7 linked regions of the Homo sapiens genome follow. The protein of the gene in region 6 purifies or fractionates together with the protein of the main gene of each other region. This does not show direct contact. Each region holds a gene or a part of one and is shown on either strand. Other genes may lie near its edges.

Evidence for each region.
Region 1: the proteins of PRKAR2B (region 6) and AMY1C purify together in Homo sapiens (affinity purification with mass spectrometry, with the first as the bait; 3 studies listed by BioGRID). This does not show direct contact.
Region 2: the proteins of PRKAR2B (region 6) and HCN1 purify together in Homo sapiens (co-immunoprecipitation; one large-scale study listed by IntAct). This does not show direct contact.
Region 3: the proteins of PRKAR2B (region 6) and ROBO2 fractionate together in Homo sapiens (co-fractionation; one large-scale study listed by BioGRID). This does not show direct contact.
Region 4: the proteins of PRKAR2B (region 6) and TXK fractionate together in Homo sapiens (co-fractionation; one large-scale study listed by BioGRID). This does not show direct contact.
Region 5: the proteins of PRKAR2B (region 6) and PNMA2 purify together in Homo sapiens (co-immunoprecipitation; one large-scale study listed by IntAct). This does not show direct contact.
Region 7: the proteins of PRKAR2B (region 6) and TF purify together in Homo sapiens (affinity purification with mass spectrometry, with the first as the bait; one large-scale study listed by BioGRID). This does not show direct contact.

The regions. Positions count from the first base shown.
Region 1 is NC_000001.11:103,748,187-103,753,151, reverse strand, and holds the start of AMY1C (alpha-amylase 1C precursor), read right to left. Parts: upstream 3,255-4,965; 5' UTR 3,086-3,254; intron 2,729-3,085; 5' UTR 2,683-2,728; coding exon 2,515-2,682; intron 2,170-2,514; coding exon 2,023-2,169; intron 1,220-2,022; coding exon 1,022-1,219; intron 574-1,021; coding exon 343-573; intron 1-342. UniProt on the Homo sapiens protein: Calcium-binding enzyme that initiates starch digestion in the oral cavity.
Region 2 is NC_000005.10:45,256,655-45,260,155, forward strand, and holds part of HCN1 (potassium/sodium hyperpolarization-activated cyclic nucleotide-gated channel 1), read right to left. Parts: 3' UTR 1-3,501. UniProt on the Homo sapiens protein: Hyperpolarization-activated ion channel that are permeable to sodium and potassium ions. Displays lower selectivity for K(+) over Na(+) ions.
Region 3 is NC_000003.12:77,042,785-77,047,319, reverse strand, and holds part of ROBO2 (roundabout homolog 2 isoform 23 precursor), read right to left. Parts: intron 1-4,535. UniProt on the Homo sapiens protein: Receptor for SLIT2, and probably SLIT1, which are thought to act as molecular guidance cue in cellular migration, including axonal navigation at the ventral midline of the neural tube and projection of axons to different regions during neuronal development.
Region 4 is NC_000004.12:48,071,283-48,075,817, forward strand, and holds part of TXK (tyrosine-protein kinase TXK), read right to left. Parts: intron 2,772-4,535; coding exon 2,653-2,771; intron 393-2,652; coding exon 235-392; intron 1-234. UniProt on the Homo sapiens protein: Non-receptor tyrosine kinase that plays a redundant role with ITK in regulation of the adaptive immune response. Regulates the development, function and differentiation of conventional T-cells and nonconventional NKT-cells.
Region 5 is NC_000008.11:26,507,181-26,511,551, forward strand, and holds part of PNMA2 (paraneoplastic antigen Ma2), read right to left. Parts: intron 2,498-4,371; 5' UTR 2,368-2,497; intron 2,064-2,367; 5' UTR 1,576-2,063; coding exon 481-1,575; 3' UTR 1-480.
Region 6 is NC_000007.14:107,159,197-107,162,838, forward strand, and holds the end of PRKAR2B (cAMP-dependent protein kinase type II-beta regulatory subunit), read left to right. Parts: intron 1-252; coding exon 253-386; 3' UTR 387-2,615; downstream 2,616-3,642. UniProt on the Homo sapiens protein: Regulatory subunit of the cAMP-dependent protein kinases involved in cAMP signaling in cells. Type II regulatory chains mediate membrane association by binding to anchoring proteins, including the MAP2 kinase.
Region 7 is NC_000003.12:133,769,743-133,774,277, reverse strand, and holds part of TF (serotransferrin isoform 1 precursor), read right to left. Parts: intron 3,771-4,535; coding exon 3,706-3,770; intron 1-3,705. UniProt on the Homo sapiens protein: Transferrins are iron binding transport proteins which can bind two Fe(3+) ions in association with the binding of an anion, usually bicarbonate.

The sequences.
Region 1 (4,965 bases), on a different chromosome or scaffold from region 6:
TACCTAATTTTTAGTCTTGTACATCAATGATAATAATAACAGCTCACAGGAATACGATATTTACTATCTGACTGACTTTTTTTGATAAATATTAACTCATTTCATTTTCCAAAGAAAATAAAGACATAACTATTATCAGTATCCTACATTCTGTGTACCTCCATAAAACCTGTTGTGATAAAGAATTAGATATGCTGTATGTGAAGAAGAGGAGGTTAAAGAACACTGTTTTAAGGAAATGACTCAGTCTTTATCCTACAGAAATTGCATTTTTAATTGAATCTGCCGTGAATTTTCTAATGAATAGGATGATATTTTATATGCCTATATGTATTGACGTACCTCCTGGTAAATGAAAGGTTTACTACCTTCCGGGAACCAGTTACTGTTTAGATTATGCAGTTTGTCCAAAATTGCCTTTATGTCTCCAGGCCACATGTGCTTGGAAGCATCAATTCTGAACCCTGCAACACCAATGTCAATGAGATGGTTCATATATTCGGCAATCTTAGAACGCACATAATCCTTCCCCAGTGCAAGATCGAGAAGACCAGACAGACGACAATCTCTGACCTGTTGAGGTAAGAATGTTATGATTGATTAATAAAACCTCACTTTTCGCCTGAGAATCCATTTGATTATTCATTTATTCCATGATTCCTCAAGAGATATTCTATGGTGACTTCCTTGCATTGGACACTGGGGATGCTCACATTCTACTATAGATGTATCTTGGAAATATTTTCTAATAGAAAATAGAGAACTTAGGAAATAAAGTCGATGAGTTTTTCAATTGGTTGGGAGCTTTTTAAAAGTGGACAAATGTGTATTGATTAAAAATCTTAAATCAATATTTAAAGGTTTTCAAATATGGATTTGAGTTTCTTAAAGTAGTCAAACTTGTTAACCTCTGTCCCTAAGAGATCTAAATTCATATTTACAACGAAGTTCAATTAGCTACATGTCTACAACAAAAGGCATATATCACTCCTTATTCAGATCACTCTCGTAAAAAAATTACCTGAGTAGCATCATTATAGTTCTCGATATCTCCACTTCCAGTTTTACATTTACCATCATTAAAATCCCATCCAGAATATGGGACTGCTGGAAAGTCCCTACTTCCAGGGTTGAAGTAACTTCCACAGGTACTGCTTGTTCCTGCACTCACAGCATTACCACACATATGATTAATTACAGCATCCACATAAATACGAACCTAGAAAACAAAGTTTCTAATTCAGTGTGACTTACAGAGAGGCAGAAATTTAAAGAATTATTGATTAAATTTATAGTGTGCTAATAAAATTCCAAAATATTTCATACCTTATAACTATTTTCCTACAAGATCAAAAATCAACTGTGAAAGGAAAGTAATGTGAACTAAACACCTACATTCATTCCAGACACTTGGCCAAATATATATAGGAATGATAAACTGAGAGAACCGGAAACTACCATAAATAGGAGGAAAGGCAAAAAGCCCATTTTGGGGAGACACAACTCAGATGAGACTGAAAAGGTTACTATTTGGGAAATTTCAGTGGGTCACCAGGAGAAAGCCTGTACTCTCTACTAAGCTTGGAAGACAAATAAGGTAGCTATTCATCTCAAATTCTGCTCCTCATTAAATAGATAAGCTACCTATTCACCACAAAAAAAACCCAAGAATTAGGAATGGAGACACAAGTCATCTAAAAATGAGAGCAAATATTGTAACTGGAATTAAAATTCCTCACCAGAAAATCCTTCCAGGAAATATGGATAGTTATAGCGGTTAAAATTTGATGTTTTGCTTCAGAAGTAAACTCTGCTATAAACTTTAACTTATCTCTTTAGTAGAGAGCACATATACAAATATTTTCAAAAATTGAACATAAGGTGACAGTTACTTTTGAGTTTTAAAGTATGAAGTAAAATTAAAACTGATATGGAAAACTTTCTGCTCAAAAGGAGCAAGAAAGAAGAGACAGAAATCATTTTCCTATCTGTTATTTTTAAAGGAAACTAGAATTCACTTACCCCAACATTGTTGCATCTAGTCACCATGTTTCTAAATTCATCTTCATTTCCAGATCTTGTGCATAATTTATAGCTAACTGGTTGGTATCTTTCCCACCAAGGTCTGAAAGGGTTGTGAATGGCAACATTTTCATTTGGTGGAGAGACCTACAAATTAAACAGTCTTCATAAGTACCAAATTCTGTCTTACTGTATATCATTGAATGTTCTAGAATCTAATCAATAATACAAAAGATTCTTGAATCTTGGTATAGGCAGCTATCTCTTGAAAATATTAACAGCACATCGGAGGGCTCTTGTTGAAGAAAGATTATATCAGAAACAAAATATACAGTTGCAAAGAATACTACATTGTTTTTTCCTCAGAAAATTCTTTTACTTAGAATACTTACCTGTGAAGTAAAATGTTGCCCAAGCTTCACGTAGAAGATCAGAATAGTGTTTACTACAAGCACAGTGAATTCTGCAATTGATACTATGAATCATACCCACCTGAACCCCTCCAAATCCCTTGGGAGCTAAATATCGCTCACATTCAAGAGCAATATCAACCCATCGCCATTCAAACAGATGAACAATAGATGTTCGTCCTTGTTGTGTATTTGAGGAATACTGAGCCCAGCAGAACCCAATGGTGAAAAGCAACCAAAAGAGCTTCATTTTGCTTTGAAGTTGTCAGTGTCCTTTCCAGAAACTATTTATATTCCTGTAAGAAGCACATTTTACAATGTAAATAGTAGCATGAATAAATACTTGAGGGCAAACTGTTTATTCATAATCTGAAAAGGATTATCAATAATAATCCTAACTGGTGAAGAACATCAAAAAGTCTCTCATGGAAATCATCTCAATGACCTCTTAGACATTAATGTTTCTTTTCTTTTCTTTTTTTTTTTTTTTTTGCATATGGTAGCACTTTTATTTTTCCTTACACAATGACATGTTGCTGTGGCCTAATGTTCTCACATAACAGCAGAAAACCAAAATTTGTTGTCAACTCTTAAAAGATCGAGAATTGCATACTAAAAAACTTTACATAAATTAAAAGGATGAATACATTTACCGGTATAAATGCGAACCGCTTCCAACTCAAGGCAAGTAACAGCCCACGGTGCTCTGGTAGATAACGTAAGCTAAGAAAGGAAACTGGGTCCTATGGCTTGGACTTTCCAACCCTGACAGACCGACAAGACGGAAACAACTGGTTCAGGAGCCCTTCCCAGCCTCTAGATAAATCTCAGAACACTCAGCCCTGACACATTAATACCCTGCACGGATCAGAGACTGCTGACCACACAGACTCACCAAGCCAGACTTGTCTTCCACAAGCACGTTTTTAGCCATGAAGTGACCAAGCCACGTGTACTAAACACTGACATCAAAGGTATGTACAGATACCAAGGGGAAGAGTTAACTTGAATGCCAGGCCAAAATCAGCAACAAGTTCTACAATCCAGTGCTGATATTGAGAAGAGAGAAAGACCCTGTCCTCTTGTTTTATATTGTTTTCTATTCAGTAAAAACAACAAGGAAGCAAAATCAAAGGCACAAAACCAGGCCTGGGCCTGGTTGGCCTAAACCCAGTAGTTACAAATCAACTTATGATTTAGAAGCCGATGTTATTCATAGATTCCAGACATTGTATAGAAGAACATTGTGAAACTCCCTTCCATATTCTGTTTCTCCCTGACCACGGGTGCATGTAGTCCTTGTCGCATATCCCTGGCTTGTTCAAATCAATCACGACCCTTTCATGTGACATCTTTAGTGCTGTGTGCCCTTAAAAGGGACAGAAATTGTGCACTTGGGGAGCTCGGATTTTGAGACAGTAGCTATCCGATGCTCCCAGGTGAATAACACCCTTCCTTCTACAACTCGGTGTCTGAGAGTTTTGTCTGCCGCTTGTCCTGCTACATTTCTTGGTTCCCTGACCTGGAAGCAAGATAACTGATGGACGGCCGAGGCAGCTCCTTAGGCAGATTAGGCATGCCTTGTGGAGTAAGGCCGGGGCATCCCTCAGGCTGCCAGGGACTCTGGCCAGCCTGAGGGATGGGATCCAAAGAGCGCTCCCAGGTAGGAAATGGCCCCGGTTGAACGCCTCGCCAGAGCAGTGATCCCCGCGGAGGATTAACACAGTGGCTGAACACCAGGAAGGAACTGGCACTTGGAGTCCAGACATCTGAAACTTAGTAAGACAAGTCTTTTCAACTTGCCCCACTCCACCTGAGCGGAAGCTTGGCCTGATCGCTCATGGTGTGCCTGCACCCATATCAATTTCCATATAGAGATTCCTAGTTACAGCTAGTTTTAGATCCTCTACAGTGGTAAAAGGACAGGCAGCAGCAGTAGTAGTAGCAAAGGGACATTTATTTCAGGAAAGTTCTCGCTCCACCGGCCAAGAGAAGCCAGCACCTAAAGTTCTGTTTGACCCAGAGCTCGAGGACTCAAGGCAGGAGATGGCACCAACAGTGCCCTCAACCCCTTATCCAGTGGGGAGGCCCCCTTCTCCTGAGCCCACAGCCCCTAGACCACCCAGAGTAGACAAGAACAAAAGTGAAACTGCGGGAAAATCCACTTCCCTGGCAGCCCGCTTAACGGCCCAAGACGGGAATTCAAATGCCCTGAGAGAGCAGCGATATACTAGGACAGATGAGGTCAGACATACGGTAGAAAGGCATGCTTTTGTGTATCACCCTTTTACCTCTGCTGAACTACTCAACTGGAAAAATAACACTCCATCTTACACTGAAAAGCCTCAAGCCCTAATTGACTTGCTTCAAAGAATTATCCAGACTCAGAATCCTACTTAGGCTGATTGCCACCAGCTACTCATGTACCTCTTTAAAACACATAAAAGGCAACAGGTGCTGCAGGCAACAGTTAAATGGCTGGAGGAGCACATCCCAGCCAATTATCAAAGTCCCCAAGAATACATAAGAATTC
Region 2 (3,501 bases), on a different chromosome or scaffold from region 6:
GAGTAACTAGGACTACAGGAATACACCACCTATAGTCGGGTTTTCTAAACACTGCAGGTATGTAAGTATATACTGGTCAATTAAAAAAATTTTTTTTCCTTGTAGAGACCAGGTCTTGACATGCTGCCCTGGTTGGTCTCCAATTCCTGGCCTCAAGCATTCCTCCCACTTTGGCCTCCCAAAGTGCTAGGATTACAGGCATGAGCCACCACGCCTGGCCTGAGAACTTGCTTTATTTTAGCCAAAATTATTTTATCACTTCTTTCCCTTCTCACAGGTTCTAGCTCTTATCTTCTTGTACCCCTTCCCTGCCGCAATATATTATCTTACGCAAAGCAAGTAAACTTTCAGTTTCCTATTCCCATTACTCTATTTAGCAAACCTAGGACCTTCCTTAGGACCCAGCATCCTCACAAGGCAGGGTGGGGTTGTAAATAGCCCCCAGTTTTTGCTGTGTCATAAATTATTTTATTCCTTGTTACATTAGCAAAACAGACATTTCAATGTGAATCCTCCCCGTTGATAAGCTTAAATTAAGAATATAAAGTACAACACTGTAAAACCTTTGCCCTGATGTTAAAAGCCTTTCAGAAGGTTTTTGAAATCCCTATTTCCCACTTGATCTGGGTTCCTCTTCACCCTGTGAGACACTCCAGCTGCATTGAACTGCCAGTGTTCCCAATCAGCTGTGCTCTGTTAAACATCCACATTTTAGAAAAGCATGCTTAATTTTTCACTAAATGATAATTATTTCCCCAGCATTTAATGTATTACTCATTCTCTCCACATCAAGGACCTTGTAAACAAATTCAGAGCATTATCTGTAGGTTCTTTTAAGATCATCTTTAAATAATTTTCAAGGTGGGATGCGGGGAGTGTCAGCAAGGCTTCTCTCATTAAAAAACCTTAAAATCTCCATTTGTCCCTGTCAAAGCCTGAATTGGAAGCAGGGTCAGCATTAGGGTGAGACAAGAGATGCAGGGTTGTGCAAGTGCAGGGTTGTTAAAAAGGAAAAAAATTGAAATTGCTTAAGAAAGTCATTGCTTTTGAGGGGTAATAGCAGGTGTACTTCCCTAAGTACAATAGCAAATCTTTCAAAGAAAATTTCTATCCTATTTTTCCTTGAAAATAACCATATTGAATACAGTTATAGAACTGTATTTTATTTATTTGTATGTGCTACAATTTGGTGCATGCAGCAACCACAGTTCCTTAAATTTTTGGCCATTGTTTTCAGGACTCAAAATAGCTCAGCATTCCATTCTATAAGGCCCATGTTTCTTTCCCATGGTACAGTATGAGTACTTTTTAAAGTAGGTGAACATAAAATAAAAGTTTGCTAGTTGTAGTGCATATGAACAAAATAACCACATGGGTTTTATGGCACATGTTCTAAAAAGATAAAGATATAATGGAGAGATATCTCATTCAAACAGGTTAACATTATAAACAGTGCAAGTGAGGGCCATAGAAGCAAAGTAACATAGTAAAATTAACAAATATAAAAACCTAAGCTGAAAGAGGAGGTATGGAGATTTTTTAAATAGTCCTGAAAGATAATAGAGATTGCTCATAATTTGAAGTAGACATAATTCAGGATTTGAAATAAATCATCTAAAATTTTAAACATGTCATATTGTTTAAATCATTCTCTGTCCTATAGGAATGACGGTAATAACTTGACTATGTACTTTGTAGTGTCCTGAAAATAGTATGCTCAGTTAAGTTTATAAATTGCAAAATAACCATCTCTTTAAAGTGGAACAGCATTCATCAGGGAATTGTTCACTTATGAAGAGGTCATCCAGACCTGGAGACAAGCTACTTTTTTGGTGAATAGAATATATTGCCATTGCTACTATTTATCCTCCTTGTTTTCAGGAATGCTTCACTACTTATTCTCATTATGATAAACTCTATCTCAGGCTTTTAGGTATCATTTAAAACCCACTTGTGTGGGGAGGTTCTATCACTCTCCAAATAACTTTGCAGGGCCCAAGGCTATAAATATGAATATATTTATACAAACCTATTTTGTTATAATAGGGCCTTGGGCCTACTATACAAACCTATTTTGTTTAAGGCTATAAATATGAATGTATTTATATAAACCTGTTTTGTTATAATAGAGCCCAAGGCCCTATTATAACAAAATAGGTATGTTATAAAACTATTATAACAAAATAGGTATGTCATAGAACTATTATAACAAAATAGGTTTGTATAAATATATTACAGGACAATTATTTACCATTATTACAGGAAAATTATTTCTCATCTGTATATCCAATAATTACACAAAATGGTTGTGTTTTGAAGTTGGAGAACAACCACATTCTAAAAAGGCACAGAGCAAAAAAGAAAATAAGCTCATATTTTACTATACGAAAAAGGTAAACAAAGAAGTGGTTGAAAAATCCATGTTCTATTTAAAGTCCTCTCATTCCAGAATTATAGAATATAATTGATTTTATGTGATTATCAAGTATAAGCTCTTGGAAATTTTATGATGTAAAAATAGAGGCAAAGCTGTACTCATTAATAAAATAAAACATTTGATTAGCATATATTGATAAAATAAAATATTCATGATTGTAGTTTATTTTTTGTTGAATTTATTAATAATCTTTATATATATTTATATATGTATGGCTTTGAGCAAAGACAAAAGAAATACTCTAACTCATCCCTGATCATACAGTTGTTGTAAGAATCAGCTATTCTATTATCTTTCCAGCAGCAGAAAGACCAATGAATAATACATTTCTTTCTGTACAGATTAAAACTCCATACATACGGGCTTCACTATGTACAGAGAAAAGAGGTCACTTTTCAACTAGCAATGGACCTTTATATTACAGGAATGTGAGTCATTTTTTTTTCTTAATCTAAGTATATATACATTCATACATATATGTATATAATTTACCCTGTACCTTTTTATTAGTTTAATATATAAACCTTAGTTTTTTTGTCCATTCTATTACAAAGTGAATAAAAATTGTATGGTTGCACTGAAAGACCATGCATTTCAATTTTGCTTATGTTTCCCAATAGTGCTCAAAATAAAAAACCAAAAATTTATATATATAAAAATATTTCACTACCAAATCCATTAATCCTATCAAATGTAAACCTTTAATAATTTAAAGGACCAATACGTAATCTTAATAAATTGAAGTTAATTCTCATATTTTAATAAAATAAAGGAGTTTTGTACTGATATGTAAATGGTCTTGCAGCTTTCCCATAGGTTCTAGGTAGACTGAACAATCCCTTTCTTACAACAGTATTCCTGACATGCCATCATATGTCACCAGCATATTGATGATTACATTACATCGACTAGCAGTTAATTACTTCCACACCAGTTGGGATTTGTTTGAAATTAAACATAACAACTCATTTTGGTATTATAGGTATTATATCCACAAAAGGCATAACAGGCAGCAAGGATCCACTTTAGAGTTTCTGCTTTTGTTTTTGTTTTCTGTCCTCAAG
Region 3 (4,535 bases), on a different chromosome or scaffold from region 6:
GTAAGGACACTGAGGCATAAAAAGGTTAAATTACTTGTTCATACTCATTCAGTAGTGATTGCTCAGTAGTCTTTCAATAACCATCTTATCCTTCTTCCTTACAGGCAAACTATGTTGCAATCAATCTAGACTTCTTGCCATTTCCTTAGCACCCCTTTGTCATCTTCATGCCATTTTTCTGGTTACTTCTTTTCCTGGAATTCAATTTCCAATCTTTTTGCCCACCAAAATCCCACTCTTCCTCTAAGGTCCAGGTTAAGAGACCCATTTGGTGTTGACCCTTCCCAGATTGTACCAGCTGGAAATCACCTATTCCTTCTCTGAGTTCTCAAGACTATACTGTGTACACCTTCAAACTTCTTACTTATCAGACACTACTTTTTTTATTCTAGTGACTTGAACATTTGGTACCTTCCCTACCAAGTCATGACTTCCTTGAATGTGGGAATATTTTCACAGGTCAGCATGTTCTTCACAGAGCCAAGCAAGTTATGTTGTCAATATGCATGTGTTGAATCAAAGGAATAACCTAAACATATTCAAGCTCATTTTCTCATGGACTCTTCAGAAAATAGCTGGTCATTTTCAGTAACAAGAGCCTGGAATTCTTGTTAAGGAGTTCCAGGGCTAAGAATCCAGAAACAGTCTCTCATAGGCAGAAGCCTGGTACAGAGATGAAGCATCCCTGGAGTCTAGTTTCTGCTCTACCACTAAGTAGCAATGGGATCTGTGACAAGGCACATAAAATCTCTAAGCTTCAGTTCTCCATGTGCCCAACCAATAAGAGAGTTGTGCAATATAGCTGCAAATATTCATAATGGCTCCGAGATGCTATCATTCTATGATTTATATTTACTATTGCTGAGATCTCTGCTAAAAGTGACAAGTTCAACTGAGGTACTATCTTTGTAAAGTTTTACGAGGCAACTGAGGAAGACTTAGAAGACAACAACCACTGAAGGGATTAGAAATCAGGACTATTGGGGATTTGAGACAGATTAGTATAATATAAAATTGTTTCACTTCAAAACATCATACCCAACTCATAAGGCCCTTCGACTCTTTCTTTCCATGATCAATTAAAAGAAAATATCTACTTCATATATTGCTAATGGCAATGTAAAGTAGCACAGCTGCTTTGGAAAATAGTCTTGCAGTTCCTCAAAATGTGAAACACAGACTAAACATACAACCCAGCATTTCCATCCCAGGTTAAATGAAGACATATGTTCACACAAAAGTTAGTACGTGGATGTTCAAAGCAGCAATATCTATAATAGCCAAAAATGGAAATAACTTAAATGTTCATCAACTAGTAAACCAAAGGATAGATGATAAGGAATATTGTTTGGCAATAAAAAAGAATGATGTACTGATGCATATGCTATGACACGGATGACCCTTAAAAACATTACGCTAAAGAAAAGAAGCTAGTCACAAAATGACATCATATATTGTATGATTGCATTTATATATAAAATGTCCAGAAAAGACAAATCCACAGAGGCAGAAGTAGAGTGGTGATTTCTTGTGGTTGGTGGAGGGATGGTGGAACAAGCTACATAGTTTCTTTCTTGGGTAATTAAGAACATTTTAAAGTTAGATTGTAGTGATGGTTGCACAATTCTGAGAACAAGTTGAATACAAGTTGTGAGAACAAGTGAAAAATGGTTCCTCATTGGGGGTCATGAAAAAGCCTATGAATGGTGGAAGCCATTTACTGTGATGGGAATGGCTAGAAAGAGAAGATTCTGTCTTAGGCTTGAGTTTTGTACATTCTCATTGGACATGAAGCAAAGACGTCAAGTAGTCAGGTGAGTATGTCAAGCACTGATGCAAGCACTGGAGATCAACAGTATATACAACAGCCAAGTTCTGTGCTGATGGATCTTATATCCCTCCATGCAATGATTAGGGCAATTTTAGAATTATCAATCCAAACATGTATTTAAACCTCATGTGATTAGATGAAAGAGCCTAAGGATTGGCTGCAAATGGAGGAGAAAACACTAAGGATTGAGGCCTCCGTTACTCCAACACTGTGTTGAGTCAAGTATTCTGGGTAAGCATGCTACCCTAGATGCTATATGCTTCTATCATTGTATAACACACTACTAAAACAGTAGAGTTGATAGGTATTTATTTTTAAAAAGAGTTTATAATCATTCCTTCATTCTTTATATAGTAATTCTTTTACAAGAAGAAGAAAAGCCTACAGCTGGCTCAGGAAGTCCTTTCAGATACTTTCCCTACCGCCCGCCTCCCTCCCCCAACATTGGGTGTTCCAAGCCCCTCACAAAGACCTTAAACCCTCAAGTAGTGGCTCAGCTAATAAAGGCACACATGGAAAAAAAAAGAAGAGAAGAAGGAGAAAAGCAATATCTATGCCAATGTATTGATTTAGGTTGATAGATCTATACCTGGAGAACCTTTAAGAAATACAGCAATACTTTTCTTTAGAAATAAATCTGTAAAATGGCACTCTATAAATCTCCACTGTTTGCTTGAACTCAGATATGACGACTTTTACTTGTGTAAACTGGAAAATGATAGGATCCGTGCAAAACATTTTGCATAAAGCTATATATAGTATTGTGGGGTAAAAGTGAGAAAGTCAAAATCCCAGTTGGATATACCTAAAGGTAAAATATTATTCACATTTTTCCTTTAAATGCAGATTTTCTAAATTATCATTCAAGAAACACCCTCACCTATCTTCTTCACTCTTCAAGTGTTTCTCTAATTCCTTTCATTAGATCCAAAAAAGAAAAAAAGAGGAGGAGAATAAGAAAAGGAAAGAGACGATGAATGAGAAGAAGAAAGAGAAGGAGAGGAGAAGGAGGAAAAAAAGGAGAAAAAGGAGAAATAGTAAATAAGATGATAATCTTTTTTTCTAATACTCTTCGAAAACCAAATTGCACATGGGAAGTAAATGTACCTCCTGTAGACTGCCGGAACTATTTCAGCAGATATTACTAGGCACACACACATCCCACATACATCAGCTCCCTTCATTGCTATGTATGTATCCCAACTTATACAATGTGCTTACATATCTATATTTTTATCGTCAAACATGCTATTTTATACAAGCTGCTCAGGGATGAGATGGCCAGAACTGCTCTTTTTATATAATCATTACTTTTTTTTTTTACAATATTTTTGCTTAATGTTCTAAGAAATCCTTTTTTTTTATGGTCCACATGTTGCGTAGCATCAAAGGTTATTCAAACAAAGCCAATTCAAACATGGTATTACTGCATAGCTTCAAAAACACATTTCAGGTTACTTATATATAATTTAAATTCTGAAATAGACTACATATGGCTATGATAATAAGCCCATTACTGAAAAAGAGCACTTTAGCAACATGTATAAACCTCTATGAGATTCTACATCTGCACTATGCACATACATTATCTTTACTATATTTATCTCCCCTAATATCATGTGTGCCACTTTCATTTAAGAATAGTTAAAGGGTAAAGATGAGAAAAACATTCTCATTTTAAAACACCTTTTCACAAGTATTATAAAATTATCAGATTGATGTAATATATGGCATATAGATGTAATTTAAAAGTGTTGCCATAGTTCATATTAATTTCCCATAAATGACTGCAAAACCCTATTCTTATTCAAAAATAAAGAAAAGCTGGAAAACAAAGGCTAACCTTAACATACATTCTCCTATATGATCATACAGAAAAGTCTAGATGTGATTAATCTGCATCAATAAGAAAACCATTATTTACATCCCAAATAGAAAAGTTTATCTACATTTCTCAACTAACTTAATATTTGCTCTCTATGGATTGCTACAGGGACACAATACTGAAAAATTATAAATAATATTAGCAGATAGCTTCTATGAGGTGGCAAAACGCTACCATTTTTCATATACTATAAAAATGCACATATAAATAACCCACCAAGCAAATATCAATGCAAATATATGTATCATTTGTCACTGAATAAAATTAATATCTGTGTCTAGCACAAGGATGGTCAGTATATCTTTGAAATGGTACAGGCTTCTGTACATTTGAAATTCATGTGGAGTATAAGCACACACCTCTAAGAAGAATAAGTAAATAGAAATCATAGAATCCTGGAAGAGTAACAAAGCTTAGAGAACCTACAAACCAACCTCTTCACTATATATGTGAACACTGAGTCTCAAAGTGCTGAAACAGCCTAGAGGGCAGTGTTCTCCACATCCCAAATTTTCAACCATCCCCGTGGAGAAACTGTCATTCTGAAGTATCCAAAGGCAATCCAATGTCAAACGTATGATTTACATATTAATTTAGTAAGAGTGTCCAGGGTTTCCTTTGCTTTTGACACAGCAGATGCTAAATACAAAACTAGTTTCACACACACAAAAATTTAATATTGCCTTTTCAGTGTCAACTCCTCAATTTTGGCATTTTTCACTACATTACTATGAGTTCTGCTGCATAATTGTGGCCCAGACACAAACTGCCCCCTTATCCTACAATGTTAAATCAGAACAAAGGTTCTAGGTTGTCTTT
Region 4 (4,535 bases), on a different chromosome or scaffold from region 6:
GATAAGACTCAGAAAATGCACTGAATTCCTCAGATAAAAGGCCATTGTTCAAAACAAAATGGATTCATGACTTTGTAGTGAGTTTGAGATAGTACTTCAGACTCTCAGGATCATGACCAAGACACAGATGCCTTTTCCTGCCATGACAGAGTTCTGAAGTAATGTTTGTGATAATCAGGTCTGCTCTCAGATGCTGGGACTGCCAACCTTCATAGGAAAGTAACATATGCTTACCTCATGCCAGCAGCTGTACATGACTTCATATATGGACATTGGTGCCAGGTGAGGGCGATATAGCCTGAAGCCTTCAGAAATAGCTTCCACGACTTGCAAATTTGACTTATTTTCAAAAGGCATTTTTCCTTCTGTAAAAACTTCCCACATTAAAACTCCTGCAAACAAAAATGCAGGAAAACAAGGGGTTAGAGAGAAATGATTGCTTGGGAACTGAAAGAACAATTTCAAACTACAAGGCATTATTTTTGTGCTCCAGGCTTTGGGCTATAACCATCCTGAATAACAGCGGTTCTGTCAAGGAAGCAAATCATGTTCACTTTAGTTTTCAAAGAGGCCTGTAACCTGAAAATAATCTAAGTGAAAACAATGCCTTTCCTTGTCCATGGGTCTTGATTGCCTCTCCTATCAGGAGAAAATGCCAGTAGCATTTTCTTTTCTTTTTTTTTTTTTTTGAGACAGGGTCTCGCTCTGTCGCCCGGGCTGGAGTGCAGTGGCATGATCTCAGCTCACTGCAACCTCTGTCTACCGGGCTGGAGTGCAGTGGCATGATCTCAGCTCACTGCAACCTCTGTCTCCCGGGTTCAAGCAATTCTTCTGCTTCAGCCTCCTGAGTTGCTGGGATTATAGGTGCCCACCACCACGCCCAACTAATTTTTCTATTTTTAGTAGAGGCGGGGTTTCACCATGTTGGCCAGGCTGGTCTCGAGCTCTGACCTCAGGTGATTCGACCACCTCAGCCTCCCAAAGTGCTGGAATTACAAACGTAAGCCATCACGCCCGGCCTAGCATTTTCATTTCTAAGCAGCAGTCACGTTCCTGCATCCTGAAATCAATGAACCTTTCTGCCATTCCATAGAAACTGACAGGATTATGTGAGCCTCTGCTGCCTACTTAGCCAAGAGTTTCAGCCAGTAAATGGCATGTGTCCCCTTCTTTCTGCTAAAAGATTAGACTGATGGGCAGAGCCCCAGAATATCTAGCAGGGGCTCTGTACATAAGTAGATGTCCAATAATCATTGATTGATTGATTAGTGAAACTCCTGCAAGAACTCCTAATTTGAGTTCATTTAATTATTCACTTATTCTACAAATATTTACTAGACATTGATGAGAGGCGAGGCCTCTGCTGGGGCCTGGAGATTTTATAAGTGTGAGATCAATCCATGTGCCTAAGGAGCTCACTGTTCAGTGAGGGAGACAAGTAGGTAAAATTCAGGGAGTTCTAATTGTTTGGCAACCTTCGATGAGGTCGTTATATTGCTCTTCATTGGTCTCTAAGATGTGGTCTCACAACCTAATTGCTCTTCAGTAGAGCTTCAAGTGTCACCTGCTGAGACTATCATATGTCCATGGAGAGCTAATGAGATTAATGACACAAGCTTAACTTTATTGTATGTTTTTAAATTTATGTTTTAATTTTTTTGAGGCAGGGTCTTGCTCTGTCATCCAGGCTGGAGTACAGTGGCACGATCCTAGCTTACTATAACCTCAAACTCCTGGGCTCAAGCAATCCTCCTGCCTCAGCCTCCCGAGGAACTGGGACTACAGGTATATGCCACCACACCTGGCTAATTTTTTTTTTTTTTTTGTAAAGACAGAGTCTTGCTAGGTTGCCCAGGCTAGTCTTGAACTCCTGGTCTCAAACAATCCTCCCACTTCAGCCTCCCAAAGTGCTGGAATTGTAGGCCTGAGCCACTGTGCCCAGTTTTAACCTTATTGTAGACAATAAAACTGACACCCTTCTGAGGACCCAGAACCCACAAGCCTCCAGGAAGTTTGGGGTGAAAGAGGATAGATAGATTTTTGCATATTTATTACCATTTTTTGAAAATCAACCCCGAAACTTCATTGGACGTGGGTCTATGGTGTCTCTTTCTCAATGAAGAACATTATCCAATATGAATATCAATTTATAGATCCCAAGGAAGCCTATGTCTAAATTCCACAAACTTTAAAGTTAAGGAAGTAAATGAGATGCCACCATTTTTTAAACTCAGGTTTTAAGTTCAGGTTAACAACTGAACAACTGGAAAATAGTCAACCTGCTTCACAGTTTAGACAATTAAGTTTATTAATTACACTCTAAACAATGTCATAAGATCATTTTTCCTTCAAGCCTCTGCGGAGTGGAAAACTTATCTGAGTTTGTTTTCTAGATCAGTAGACTCTTTGTTATGGTTTTATAGTGAGTGCCCATGGAGGAAGGAAAAGATCCAAAAGGCAGACTTATGTAAGAAGGTATGTGACACCAGTTGCCAAAGACAGTCGGGATGTGGTTAGAACACACAGAAGGAAGCACAATTACAAGAAGACTTTTTAAAAAATGCTATATCAATTAGGAAATCAAAGTTAAAAATAACACATTGCCCATTTTATTAAATCAAGCTCCAGCAAGTGAACATCAGATGCACTCACCAAATGACCAGACATCAGATTTACTGCTGTACTTATTGAAAAGAAAAACTTCAGGAGGGGACCACTTGATTGGGAACTTGGCTCCAAAAGAACTGACATACTCATCATCCAAAACGTACCTAAGTTTATCAGATTCAAAGCATATTGTGTTAATTACCTCCAAGCTCTATTTACTTCAAATCCCTTTAGTTAACTCTAAGTTGCTAAAAGACAAAGTATTTTACCCCAGAAAGGTTGTGGATGCCTTCTTGTTAGTAGAGTGTGAAAGTGTCCCTGATAATGTTTCCTCCCCAAACAAAGTCTCAATTGTATTTGTTTTACGTGGACCTCTGAAAATCATAATGCTGCTTCAGTTCAAAACATGGCTCACTGTTTATGTTAATTATGGTAAATTCTTAACTCTACAAAGAAGCCTGCTAAAGGCTCTAACAACCAAGATTATAAAAAGGAAATAAAAGACCACTCTTCCCAGGGGTGGGGAAAACAAAGACCACTCTTCTTAAAATGGAAATGAATGATTCAAAGTTGGATGTCGAATTTTCTTCCATGTGCATGTTTTTTTGTGGGGCATACAGAAGGGGGGAAAGTAAAAGTATATGAACATAATGCTTCTGATATGACAAATCTCTAATGCACTAGAATGGCCCTATATGGAAAGAAACCAAGAATAACTACCGTCTCCTTAAAAAAATAACAAGTTGAACCCTCTCTCTTTTTTGAGAATTGTACACCGGGATGTCCAAATGTCAGACACTGAGGAGAAGAGACAAAAATAAACTTGTGCTTGTTGCCCCTTAAATATACAATATAGTGTTTTCACAGCATTTATTAATGCTGCCCCTATACTCTCACTTTTTTTTTAAATACACTACCTCCCTCCACCTGTCAGCACTTTATTGAGTCAGAGGTCATTCTACTTAGGTAAAGAATGACTAACAGAAAACAAAGAGAGAAAAGCCACTGTTTATAGATTTTGAATTTTTCAAGTCTAGGCTCTTCAGAGAAGAAAGATTGAGTTATTAACAAAATATCTTGGAAAATGGGCCATGAACAGGAGTGAGATCTCACTACCACCACCCCTATTACCACCACTATCTAGAAAAAGATCCCCTGAGCTTTGGGGGGATCTTTTTCCCCCAAAAAGAGGAATGGGGGAAATAGAAGGGAAAGAAAAGGGGGGTACTAGACATTAGTAGATCAGTGGGTTAGGGTCCTGTATCTTGTACCCTAAAGGGCTGCCCAAGTACTTTAGGAAAGAAGCTCCTACTCCCACATTAGGTTGGTGGGATTTAAAAGTGACACAGAACCAGTGCTCTTTTCCCCAGGTGGAGCCCTTGGAAAGGCAGAAAGATGCCAGTGAACAAATGGCTGTGGATGTGCCTAGGTAAATGAGATCTGAGATCACACCATGGAGTTTTGTAATCATAAAGAACGCCGGCCAGGTGAGACTGCTCACACCTGTAATCACAGCACTTTTGGAGGTGAGGTGGGTGGATATTTGATGTCAGGAGTTCAAGACCAGCCTGGCCAACATGGTGAAACCCCGCCTCTACCAAAAATAAAAAATTAGCTGGGCGTGGTGGCATGTGCCTGTAGTTCCAGCTACTCGGGGGGCTGAGGCAGGAGGATAGCTTGAGCCTGGGAGGTCGAGGCTGCAGTGAGCCGAGAGAGCACCACTGCACTCCAGCCTGGGTGACAGAGTAAGACTCTGTCGAAAAAAAAAATTGCCAGTTCTGAATGAATCTTGCAGAAAAAATTCAGTACGTGTTAGCAGCTACCTGTTTGAATGGCCAGCCAAAGACAAGACCGGAGGATGGTGGCTGCAATGATGCCATGCACACAGATAACAAAAGGACCAGTAAGCCACCTCACTACCAGTACTA
Region 5 (4,371 bases), on a different chromosome or scaffold from region 6:
CACTTTGGGAGGCCGAGTTGGGCACATCATTTGAGCCTAGGGGTTCCAGACCAGCCTGAGCAACACAGCAAAACCCTGTCTCTACCAAAAATACAAAAGAATAGCTAGGCATGGTGGTGCGTGCCTGTAGTCCCAGGTACTTGGGAGGCTAAGGTGTGAGGATCACCTGAGCCTGAGCCTGGGAAGTCAAGGCTGCAGTGAGCCGAGATTTTTGTGCCACTGCACTCTAGCCTGGGTGATGAGAGTGAGACCCAAGAAATAAAGAAGAAAGAGAAAAAGAAAAAAGGAAGGAAGGAAGGAAAGAGAGGAGAGGAGAGGAGAGAGGAGGAGAGAAGGAGAGAAGGAGGAAGGGAGGGAAGGAAGGAAGGAAGGAAGGTCAATAATTGGCTTTCATGGTTTGATTTCAGTCCCATACATTAAAGAAAAAAATTTTTTAAAGGTCTTAGCCCACTGGCTGTGGGTCCTGCCCCCAGGTGGTTTTCAGTCGTCTCCCTCATGATTCCAGCGGCCATAGCCATCTCGTTCCTCTGGCTCTTCGATACTCTCATTCTCAAAGGAGGCCTCTTCCTCCTCTTCTTCCCGTATTACCTTCATTAGCTCAAGGAAGCTGGGGGGCGGGCCCTGATCCTTCAGCTCCCTAAGCCGGCACCACAGCATCTGGTTAAGAGTGGCCCCAGCCATGACCTGCTCCAGGCGGACCTGGTCCGCAATACGCCGAGGGATGGCGCGTTTCTCCACCGCTCTCCGGAGCAGGGTTTCTAGCCGTAACACATAGGCTGAGACCTTCTCTCCTTCCTCCTGATAGGTCTTCAGATACCTCACCTGGGCTGTCCTGCGGCTCTCTAGGCTCCCAAACACTTGCTTAAAGGCCTCCAAACACTCTTCTACACTGATGGACGGGTTGTCTGCCTGCACTATGTGCATGAGGTCCAGGGCAGGGCCCCGCAGGCTTTCCGCCAGCCACCTTTTCTTTTCTGCCTCTGTTACTGGCCACTCTTTGACTATCTCCGTGGCCTGTTCCAACCAGACCTCAAAGGACTCTTCCTCTGGGGCTGGGACAGCACTCCCTGAGAATACTCGCAGTTTCCGGTATCTCATGGGTAGCAGGGGCTGAGGCGCATGTGCCATTGCCTGTCCCAACAAATGGGCCAGTAATTCTGGTGAGATGCAGGGCACTGTGGCTGGAGACACGCCCTCCTGCCCCAGGGCTCGAAACATACCCGAGACCGTCTGCCCCTCTTTTTCTAGAAACAGGTTCAATCTTTCAAGAAACTCAGTGTCCTGATTAGGGGTCTTAAAGATCACCTTCCAGACACCCCCCTTTCCCTGGACCTCACTGGGAATGGCCGAGACATCAGTATCTTCCAGAAGCTCTAGTAAGACAGCATTGGCATTCTCCTGCTTCCGGAATATCTTGCCAAGCAGTCTATACCTGCCCAGAGACTTTAAAGTCTCCTGAAGGACCTCCTGAATCTCAGCCTCCTCAAAGTCCGCCGGTATCCCCGTAACCATCAGTGACTTCTGCTCATCCACACTCATTATCCTGCACCAGTCCTCTAACAGTGCCAGCGCCATTGTCCTAAGAATTGACCCACTCTGACTCTACAGGCACCAATTTGTTAGTGGTGCAGCTATGCACTGACTTAATATTGAAAATATCCTGGATGAGCTTCTAACCTTAGAACCCACCAATGAATGGGTCCCAGACTAGGTCACTCAAAGACAGTCACAAAGTTTTCTGGACAAATGACCCTGGCCTACTCAGTGGCAAGAACTCAGGACTTCTTGTCTTTAGGCCTGACCCAGGTGGGCAGGTCGTATCTCAGTTCTAACCACACCTGTGCCCGCAGCTCTGAAGTCCGATTGCCAGTGATTTTCTCAAAGATGCTGGCAGCCACGTGACGCTGACCCTTCTCTGATAGTTGAGGCACCTGGGACAGCTGCTTTCTCCACAGCCTCCTGGTCTCTGATGTTTCGTCTCTCTCCAGTTGATGGGAAAATGCCTTCCACTCTGGGACCCAGAACTCTTGAAGAGAAGCCTCCCAGCAGGGCGGCTTGGACCCCTGGTGAAACAATGTTCAGTTTTACTACACAGCACTCTCTTTCCTTGGAAGCATCCATACTCTAATCTGGAATGGAACTGGGGGCAGATGGCGGTTCTGCTTTACACTGCGCTTGCATTTGTCCCACTCTGTCAGACCCCTTCTTTGCTCACTGTGACTTTTTTTTCTCTTGGGGACTCCAATGAAATCTGGTGTCCCCACCATATGCTCATCAGACCTGTTGATTAATGTCTGAGCCCCAGTTAAGGACAGGATTCAAGGTCTTTGCCATTGAAAGATGAAATCAGGAGATGTGGCTAAATACCTGTTGATGTGTTCCCGAGTGTTCCGCGAGAGGTGAGGAGCTTATTTATTCACCTTTTAGCACAGGAAGACATCACCCACCTCCACACAGTGGTGTGTCTGGCTCTTAGCTCCAGCCAAGCCAAGCTGCTCTGTTACACATAAACAATAAGAACAGGTATTTATGCTTCATTAATATTCAGTAGGAAGACCGTTAATGCACTTATTCAAAAATATGATAATCCTTCACAATACTACTCAATATTAAGTTGCTTTACCTCTTTGATTAACAAAACTAATGAGGAATCACTCAAACGTTTAAAAATAGTTTAATCTAGGTATAACAATTCAGGGAAAAAAATCTCAGGGCCGACTAAGTTAAATCGGGAATTATGAATTAATTCTCTTTTGTTGTGTCTGGAAGGCTTTGCAAACACACATTTGGGCTTTGCTTTTGCTATGAATGGTAAGTGAAATAGTTTGAAGGTTTGTCCCCTCCAAATCTCATGCTGAAATGTGATCCCCAGTGTTGGAGGTGGGGCCTGGTGGGATGTGTTTGGGTCATGAGAGTGGATCCCTTATGAATGGCTTGGTGCCATTCTTGGGGTAATGAGTGGGTTCTTGTTCTATTAGCTTCCTCGAGATCTGATTGTTAAAAACAGACTGCCACCTCCCTCCCCTCACTCTTGCTCCCTTTCTTGCCGCATCTGCTCCCTCTTTGCTTTCTGCTATGACTGGAAGCTTCCTGAGGGGTCACCAGATGCAGATGTCAGCACCATACTTCTTGTACAGCCTGCAGAACTGTGACCCAAATAAACCTCTTTTCTTTATAAATTATCCAGCCTCAGGTATTCCTTTATAGCAACACAAAATAGACTAAGACAATAAGTTACTAACACAACACTCTCCAAGCATTTGTTTCTGTTTCTGTTTTTTGAGACAGGGTCTCACTCTGTTGCCGAGGCTGGAATGCAGTGGTGTAAACACGGCTCACTGTAGTAGCCTTGATCTCTCCTGGGCTCAAGCAATCCTCCCACCTCGACCTCCTGAGTACCTGGGACCACAGGCACATGCCACCATGCCTGGCTAGTTTTTTAAATTTTGTGTAGAGACGCAGTCTCCTTACGTTGTTCAGCCTGGTCTCAAACTCCTGGGCTCAAGCAATCCTCCCGCCACAGCCTCTCACAGTGCTGAATTACACACTTGAATCACCACACCCAGCCTTTCCTAACATTTGAACTTTAACCCATCATTTGAGAAAAAAGAAAAAAGGAGGAAGCACACCTATCAAGGATTTTGTTCTGGAGAACCTGTGAGGATTAGAGAACGTAAAAAAGTTAGAGTTGGCCAGGCGTGGTGACTCATGCCTGTAATCCCAGCACTTTGGGAAGCCAAGGCGGGTAGATCACTGAGGTCAGGAATTCGAAACCAGCCTGGCCAACATGGCCAAACCCCGTCTCTACCAAAAATACAAAAATTATCTGGGTGTGGTGGCACGTGCCTGTAATCCCAGCTACTTGGGAGGCTGAGGCAGGAGAATCGCTTAAACCTGGGAGACGGAAGTTGCAGTGAGCCACGATTGCACCACTGCACTCTAACCTGAGTAACAGAGCAAGACTCTGTCTCAAAAAAAAAAAAAAAAAAAGTTAGAGTTCCTAATACCTCCCAGTTACTGCTGCGGAGTGTGTGTTAAGGGGCTACAACCATTTCCCCCTTGGCCTAAACATCTTCATCAATTCGAATGGGGGCCATACGCCACAGTGCTGTCCTGTAACTCTATCAGCAGTGCTCCTGCTGTGGGAAGATCTCCTGAGTCTTCTGGGAAGTGCTGAAGGCACCAGGGGTGCCAGAGAGCCAGGAGGGCAAAATGCTGCTTCACCCCTGTGCCCAGGAGCCCCAGAGACCTGAGACTGCTGACTTCTCCATGCCTGACTTTTCCTTTCTAAAATGTGGGGACTGTGGGGGAGGGCCAGGTGCAGTGGCTTACACCTGTAAACCCAGCACTTTGGGAGGCCAAAGCGGGAGG
Region 6 (3,642 bases):
GAACCTCCCACCAACTTAGCATTGCTCATCATATTGCCGAGGGACTGCAGAGTGTGGTCCAAGAGCGTGGCCCTGGCTGCTTCCTTTTTCAAGTGGAACATTTTTATCATTATGCTTTTTCTTGTATTTTATAGTATTTACCTAAAATATCATTGCACTATTGATATATATGGAGTCGGTATTGTAAATGACTTAGAAATTCTGCAGATTTGCAAAGAATGTTATTTAAAAAAAAATCTTCTCTTTTCTCAGCAATGGATGTGCAAGCATTTGAAAGGCTTCTGGGACCTTGCATGGAAATTATGAAAAGGAACATCGCTACCTATGAAGAACAGTTAGTTGCCCTGTTTGGAACGAACATGGATATTGTTGAACCCACTGCATGAAGCAAAAGTATGGAGCAAGACCTGTAGTGACAAAATTACACAGTAGTGGTTAGTCCACTGAGAATGTGTTTGTGTAGATGCCAAGCATTTTCTGTGATTTCAGGTTTTTTCCTTTTTTTACATTTACAACGTATCAATAAACAGTAGTGATTTAATAGTCAATAGGCTTTAACATCACTTTCTAAAGAGTAGTTCATAAAAAAATCAACATACTGATAAAATGACTTTGTACTCCACAAAATTATGACTGAAAGGTTTATTAAAATGATTGTAATATATAGAAAGTATCTGTGTTTAAGAAGATAATTAAAGGATGTTATCATAGGCTATATGTGTTTTACTTATTCAGACTGATAATCATATTAGTGACTATCCCCATGTAAGAGGGCACTTGGCAATTAAACATGCTACACAGCATGGCATCACTTTTTTTTATAACTCATTAAACACAGTAAAATTTTAATCATTTTTGTTTTAAAGTTTTCTAGCTTGATAAGTTATGTGCTGGCCTTGGCCTATTGGTGAAATGGTATAAAATATCATATGCAGTTTTAAAACTTTTTATATTTTTGCAATAAAGTACATTTTGACTTTGTTGGCATAATGTCAGTAACATACATATTCCAGTGGTTTTATGGACAGGCAATTTAGTCATTATGATAATAAGGAAAACAGTGTTTTAGATGAGAGATCATTAATGCATTTTTCCCTCATCAAGCATATATCTGCTTTTTTTTATTTTGCAATTCTCTGTATTCTATGTCTTTAAAAATTTGATCTTGACATTTAATGTCACAAAGTTTTGTTTTTTTAAAAAGTGATTTAAACTTAAGATCCGACATTTTTTGTATTCTTTAAGATTTTACACCTAAAAAATCTCTCCTATCCCAAAAATAATGTGGGATCCTTATCAGCATGCCCACAGTTTATTTCTTTGTTCTTCACTAGGCCTGCATAATACAGTCCTATGTAGACATCTGTTCCCTTGGGTTTCCGTTCTTTCTTAGGATGGTTGCCAACCCACAATCTCATTGATCAGCAGCCAATATGGGTTTGTTTGGTTTTTTTAATTCTTAAAAACATCCTCTAGAGGAATAGAAACAAATTTTTATGAGCATAACCCTATATAAAGACAAAATGAATTTCTGACCTTACCATATATACCATTAGGCCTTGCCATTGCTTTAATGTAGACTCATAGTTGAAATTAGTGCAGAAAGAACTCAGATGTACTAGATTTTCATTGTTCATTGATATGCTCAGTATGCTGCCACATAAGATGAATTTAATTATATTCAACCAAAGCAATATACTCTTACATGATTTCTAGGCCCCATGACCCAGTGTCTAGAGACATTAATTCTAACCAGTTGTTTGCTTTTAAATGAGTGATTTCATTTTGGGAAACAGGTTTCAAATGAATATATATACATGGGTAAAATTACTCTGTGCTAGTGTAGTCTTACTAGAGAATGTTTATGGTCCCACTTGTATATGAAAATGTGGTTAGAATGTTAATTGGATAATGTATATATAAGAAGTTAAAGTATGTAAAGTATAACTTCAGCCACATTTTTAGAACACTGTTTAACATTTTTGCAAAACCTTCTTGTAGGAAAAGAGAGCTCTCTACATGAAGATGACTTGTTTTATATTTCAGATTTTATTTTAAAAGCCATGTCTGTTAAACAAGAAAAAACACAAAAGAACTCCAGATTCCTGGTTCATCATTCTGTATTCTTACTCACTTTTTCAAGTTATCTATTTTGTTGCATAAACTAATTGTTAACTATTCATGGAACAGCAAACGCCTGTTTAATAAAGAACTTTGACCAAGGCTATAAATGCCACGTACATTATTTTCAGTATTGTTGGTTATATTTAAATTTTCCTTACAATAAAGCACACTTTTATAATAAAATACATGAATTATTGTTTTTCATACTTTTTTGCTTGTTTCTTTAAAGTTTTCTGACGTGCATAATGCATAATTCATTGAAAAGCATGATAGCAATGTGGCATGTGGAAGCGAACCCCCAGGGCATAACATAGTAAGAAAGTATGGTTCTGTATGGCAATAGGTTTTTAAAATTATTAGCTATTCATCATGTGTGGGAGAAATAATTGTGGTGTGTTGCAGATTTATTTGGCCATTTAGAATAACCAAATCAATCTGGCTAACTAGGAATTTATGTGTAAAATTATCTGATTAAAACAGCTCAAGTTTGACTTGTGGATGTCATTATTTAATTATTAATCAACACTCCTTACTATGTGAGAATTCTCTGTTGACCATTCATTCAAGGACAGAGCCTCTCGTGTATCATGCGTGGCTAAGGAAAGGGGTGAGGACTTTTTCCCCAAGAGTGACGGTGCTTTCCCTTATTTTAAATAAAGGTGTGTGTGTGTGTGTGTGTGTGTGTGTATGTATGTGTGTGTGTATTGTTTTCTACATATCCATATGTACTAGGGCTTAGTGCAGATATTTTAACATACACGTTACCTGTGACACAACTTAGGTGAATGTATATGTGTTACCATTAGGATTAGTATTATAAACTCTGGCTAAATGCCATTTAAAATGCTTTAAAAGGCCGGCACCATGGCTCATGCCTGTAATCCCAGGACTTTGGGAGGCTGAGGCAGGAGGATCACGAGGTCAAGAGATCGAGACCATCCTGGCCAATATAGTGAAACCCCGTCTCTATTAAAAATACAAAAATTAGCTGGGCGTGGTGGCATGTGCCTGTAGTCCCAGCTACTCAGGAGGCTGACGCAGGAGAATCGCTTGAACCTGGGAGGCAGAAGTTGGAGTGAGCCGAGATTGTGCCACTGCACTCCAGCCTGGTGACAGAGCGAGACTCCGTCCATAAAACAAACAAGCTTAAAAATTCTTCAAGTGAAACGGCATGAAGCAAGAGACTTCGGATTTTATTGAAATGTAAAATTTAAAAACGCTGTGTTCTTTCCCTTCCCAAAGCATCTTTAAAGATACTGATAGAATTTTTCCTCTCAAAAAACGTTATAAAGGATGAGATGACCTTTGCCATTCTTAAGGAAAATTAATACTGTGTAGGCCTAGAGAGGTGAGTCATACATCTGGATTAAGGCAGAGCTTTGTTAAATTGCTGGACGGGATTCTTAAAAAAAAAAAAATTTACTACCTAAGAGAAATATAGTTTTTAAGGAATGCTGGCTTCTAAAATTTAGTGTTTGGTATAGCCTGATGCCAAGTATCAGAAAGAATTTTGACAAA
Region 7 (4,535 bases), on a different chromosome or scaffold from region 6:
TGCTTACATAGAAGTGGAATAGTTAGTTCAAAGGGTATATGTATTTTTATTTTATTTTATGTTATTTTATTCATTTATCTATGATACTATGTTCTCAGCCCTCTCCAAGGCACAATCTTATTGGAGGGGAAAATAACACACATACCAAAACAAAAAATTCAGGGCAGGGATAATAATATTTTATATTTTGTAAAACACTCTAGATGCTGTGTGAGCTCAAACCAGGGCTTTGAGAACAAATGAATTAAGAAGCTGGCTGGAGGAGGCAAGATTTCAGTTGTCTCTTATAGTGTGTGTAGGATGAGAGGAGGAGAAAGGAATGCCTCTCTGCGGGAGGAAAGGAGAGTGCAGGCGAGACTGGGGGCAGGTGTGTGCCTGGTGTTTCTAAGGGAGAGAGGAGACCGCCTCTGGAACCATCTCAGGCAGTAGGGTATGTGAGGCACTCAGGCAAGAGGAAAAGTGGGTTTGTGAGGACTTATGAATGGAAATTGATGTTAATGAATGAGCCAGAACCTAAAGGTAGAAAATTAAGAAAAATCAAATGGGAGGTGATTCAGTCTGGCTAGGAGGGCATCTAGAAGGGCATGTTAAAAATATGCTTTTTCAATAAAAATAATACACGTTTATTGGTGGAAATTTATAAAATGCCACGTAAGTATTGGGAAGAAAATTTTGAAGCATTTGTAATTTCATAGTCTACGCCTTCAAAATTGGTACATTTCTAACATTCTTTTTCCTACACACACCTATAATATGCACATACACACACACACACACACACACACACACACAAATTGTGATAAAAGAGCCCATGTGGGCTGAGCGCGGTGGGTCACACCTGTAATCCCAGCACTTTTGAGAGGCCGAGGTGGGCGGATCATGAGGCCAAGAGATGGAGACCATCCTGGCCAACATGGTGAAACCCCGTCTCTACTAAAAATACAAAAATTAGCTGGTCGTGGTGGTGCACGCCTGTAGTCCCAGCTACTTGGGAGGCTGAGGCAGGAGAATCACTTAAATCTGGGAGGCGGAGTTTGCAGTGAGCTGAGATCACATCACTGCACTCCAGCCTAGCAACAAAGTGAGACTCCATCTCAAAAAGAAAAAAAAGAAAAAAAAAAAGCCCACGTGGTTTTGTGTCTTCCTTCTTGTATATACCATAGCACTTAAGACAGATTTTGGAGGAGGGAGAGAGGGGGGCAAGAGTTGAAAAGCTACCTGTTGTGTGCTATGCTCACTACCTGGGTGACAGGTTCAATCATACCGCAAACCTCAGCATCATGCAGTATACCATGTAACAAACCTGCATATGTACCCTCAATCTAAAATATAAGTTGAAAAAGCAACAAATTAATAACAGAAGAAGGTAAGAAGGTGCAAAATATAAGTATGATGAATCAGACATGATGTGACTTACATTTAGTAATATTTATCAGGAATGTGATATTAAGTCAGGGGTATTAGACCAGTAGTTCCCAAACTTACAATACATCAAAATTACTTTGGCTCTTAAAAATCATGTTGTCTACCTTAAATACACACAATTATTTCAAAATTTAGTTTGAAAAAAGACACGTTTTGAAGAAATAAGATATTGACTGACAGACTTAATCTAGGCCTGATGGGCAGGGAGTATAGCAGGATTCTCTATAAGGATAGAGGCTGGGAGAAGAGGAGGGAACGTTGACAGAAAGATGAGGACAGTTGAGTTGTATATGGATTGTATATATACAACTACAATATATGAGGACATCCATATACACACGTAAAAAAATACAATTGCAATGCCAATGTACTCTCTACATAAAAGTGACACCTTGGGAAATAGACTGGAATGGAATTGAGATTGGATGTCAGGCCTCCTATCTTAATTCTATGCAGGAGGGAAGAATTTTTGAGTCATTGCAAAGAGTAAGAGAGTCAAAGCTTAAAGAAGGGAGCTCTACTCAGAAAAGTACCAAAAGAAATCAAGGGTGGCAAAGAGCCAAGCTTAGGGTAACACTCTCTTAAAGGAAAAAGCAATAATACGAGGGAAGAAAGGAAAATTAGTCAACCCAATATTTCTGCAAACAAATTCTTAGCAACTGCTGTGTACTATGTGCTACACTAGGTTCTGGGAATATAAGATGAAGAAAAAGAGCTCAAAGAGTTTCTGTAGCCAAAGTGTATTACAGAGTGTGGTGAATTCAATCATAATGGCAATATGAACAGAGGAGTCTTCTTGTAGGACAGGGTATGCCATCTGGGAAGGCTTCCTGGAGGGGCTGGTGCTGAGCCGGTTCATTCTGGATGAGTTGCCCAGGAAAAGTGAGGAGTTGGGGAATGAACATGAGAGAAGGCAGGGAAGTATTCACAGCTTGAATTCCAGTGGGCTCTGCTAGCACTTAGTGATACTGAGGGGTCAGGTGTGGAGTGCTCAGTCTGGCCAATGTTTGTTTTGCTTTGTTTTGTTTGTTTTTATTAATATTATGGCTGTCCAACGTTCACCCACAAGTTAACACCCATTGATTCTTTTTTTTTTTTTTTTTTTTTTTGAGACGGAGTCTCGCTCTGTCGCCCAGGCCGGACTGCGGACTGCAGTGGCGCAATCTCGGCTCACTGCAAGCTCCGCTTCCCAGGTTCACGCCATTCTCCTGCCTCAGCCTCCCGAGTAGCTGGGACTACAGGCGCCCACCACCGCGCCCGGCTAATTTTTTGTATTTTTAGTAGAGACGGGGTTTCACCTTGTTGGCCAGGATGGTCTCGATCTCCTGACCTCATGATCCACCCGCCTCGGCCTCCCAAAGTTCTGGGATTACAGGCGTGAGCCACTGCGCCCGGCTTAACACCCATTGATTCTTGCTTGAATCAGTTATCAATATATTGGTTGCCAAGTGATAGTTTTCTAACTCTATCATTCCTTCCACATTGATTAGTTTTCCCTTCTTCATTTGTTTAATCAGTATTGCCTCATGCATTCTTATTTCTTTCAATGGGCTATTATCCCTTACTGCTATCATTATTTATTTTAATGCTCAAAATTCCCAGACTTGGCAACAGGAGATCCTTCAAATTGGTTCTTGTATGCTTTGAGTGTCCCATCACTGTTTGAGCACTTCAGTGTGTTGTTCTAGGCTCAGCATCTATTTTTCCTGCCCCAGCCCTGAAGTCAGCTATTTTTCCAAGGAGTTCTGGTTCCTTTTAGTAAAGAAGAGTACTTACAAGCCAATATCTTGGTGCTTACTCCTGCTGGTATGCCATTGCCTCTAGGCCTTCTCAATGGACACAACCCAGAAGTACAGTAAATAGCTATAAAAGGCATTACTGGGATAACTGACAACAGTTAAATGTGGACTGTGGACGTGACGAGTATTAAATCCACATAATGTAAAAGATCCTGATCTTGGTAATCATACTGTGGGTATGCAAGAGATTGTCTTATTCTTAGGAAATAGGCACTGAAGTATTTAGGGGAAAGGAGCACAAGGCTTGCAGCTGTGGGAGTGTGTGTTGGGGAGGATTTAGGGCCATTGGGGGCCCCATAATCCTGATCATTCTGCGCACTCAGGTGAACATGTCTCTCTTCACTGAGCAGACAGACTGAGAATCAGAGCTTTGAAGTCTGACAGTGTACATAATACTTCCACAAAGGCATCCCTGAATACAAGTGAATACCAGTGACCAGGATCTAGTGATCTAGGGGGACAGAGGAGCAGGTGCACTTACCCCCAGTGTTCTGTGGGACAGTCTGGTGTTTCACAAAGGCCACATCTCCCTTCTCAACCAGACACCTGCAGAGGTCCAGAAGTGGGAGAGAAAAAAAAAGGCGGTCAGAGTGACTTATCTGTCATTCAGGGGGCTACCTTATAGATTCAGGACAGCCATCTGAAAACAGCAACTGTAACTTCCATTCTAACAGTAAGCAATGTAAGGAATAAAGAGAACAAAAACAAAACACTCTGAATTGATTGTAGTTTTACAATCTCAGTTCCACATACTAAATCTTAATTTTTTGTACTGTTTCTCTGAGAGATGACATAATTTCCCTGACATCAACAAGGATAGTAGGGAATTGATTTTCAGTGAGGTGATGCCTCCCCCAGCATATGAATGAAAAACTCAGTTCCTTCAGGTTCTCATACAAGGCGAATGTCTAGGCAACATTTGTGAGAGACTGAAACTCCATCACAAATTGCAATTTGTGCTGTCCTTCATTCCTTTGAAAAAGAATTTTAACATTTATGGAGCATTTGCTATGTTGTGGGTTTTTTTGTTTTTGTTTTTGAGAAATGCAGAGAATATGGCAAAACATGGCATAAAGGCACCTGACTCTACTAACTCCCAGGCCACATATCTCTGGGTGTGGTAATGGGGGTTGTAACACAGCTCTGAGCTACAAGTCCCCAAGAAGTTTCAGAAAAGAAATAATAACAAAATAAACTCTGGTTAGTAGGGTTCTAATTTTAATTTTGACTGTCTTCCAGTCCTTTGAAAGGGCATACCACACAGATGATGAACTAGTGTGTACTTCAAAATCTACACAAGGCCCTCCTCAA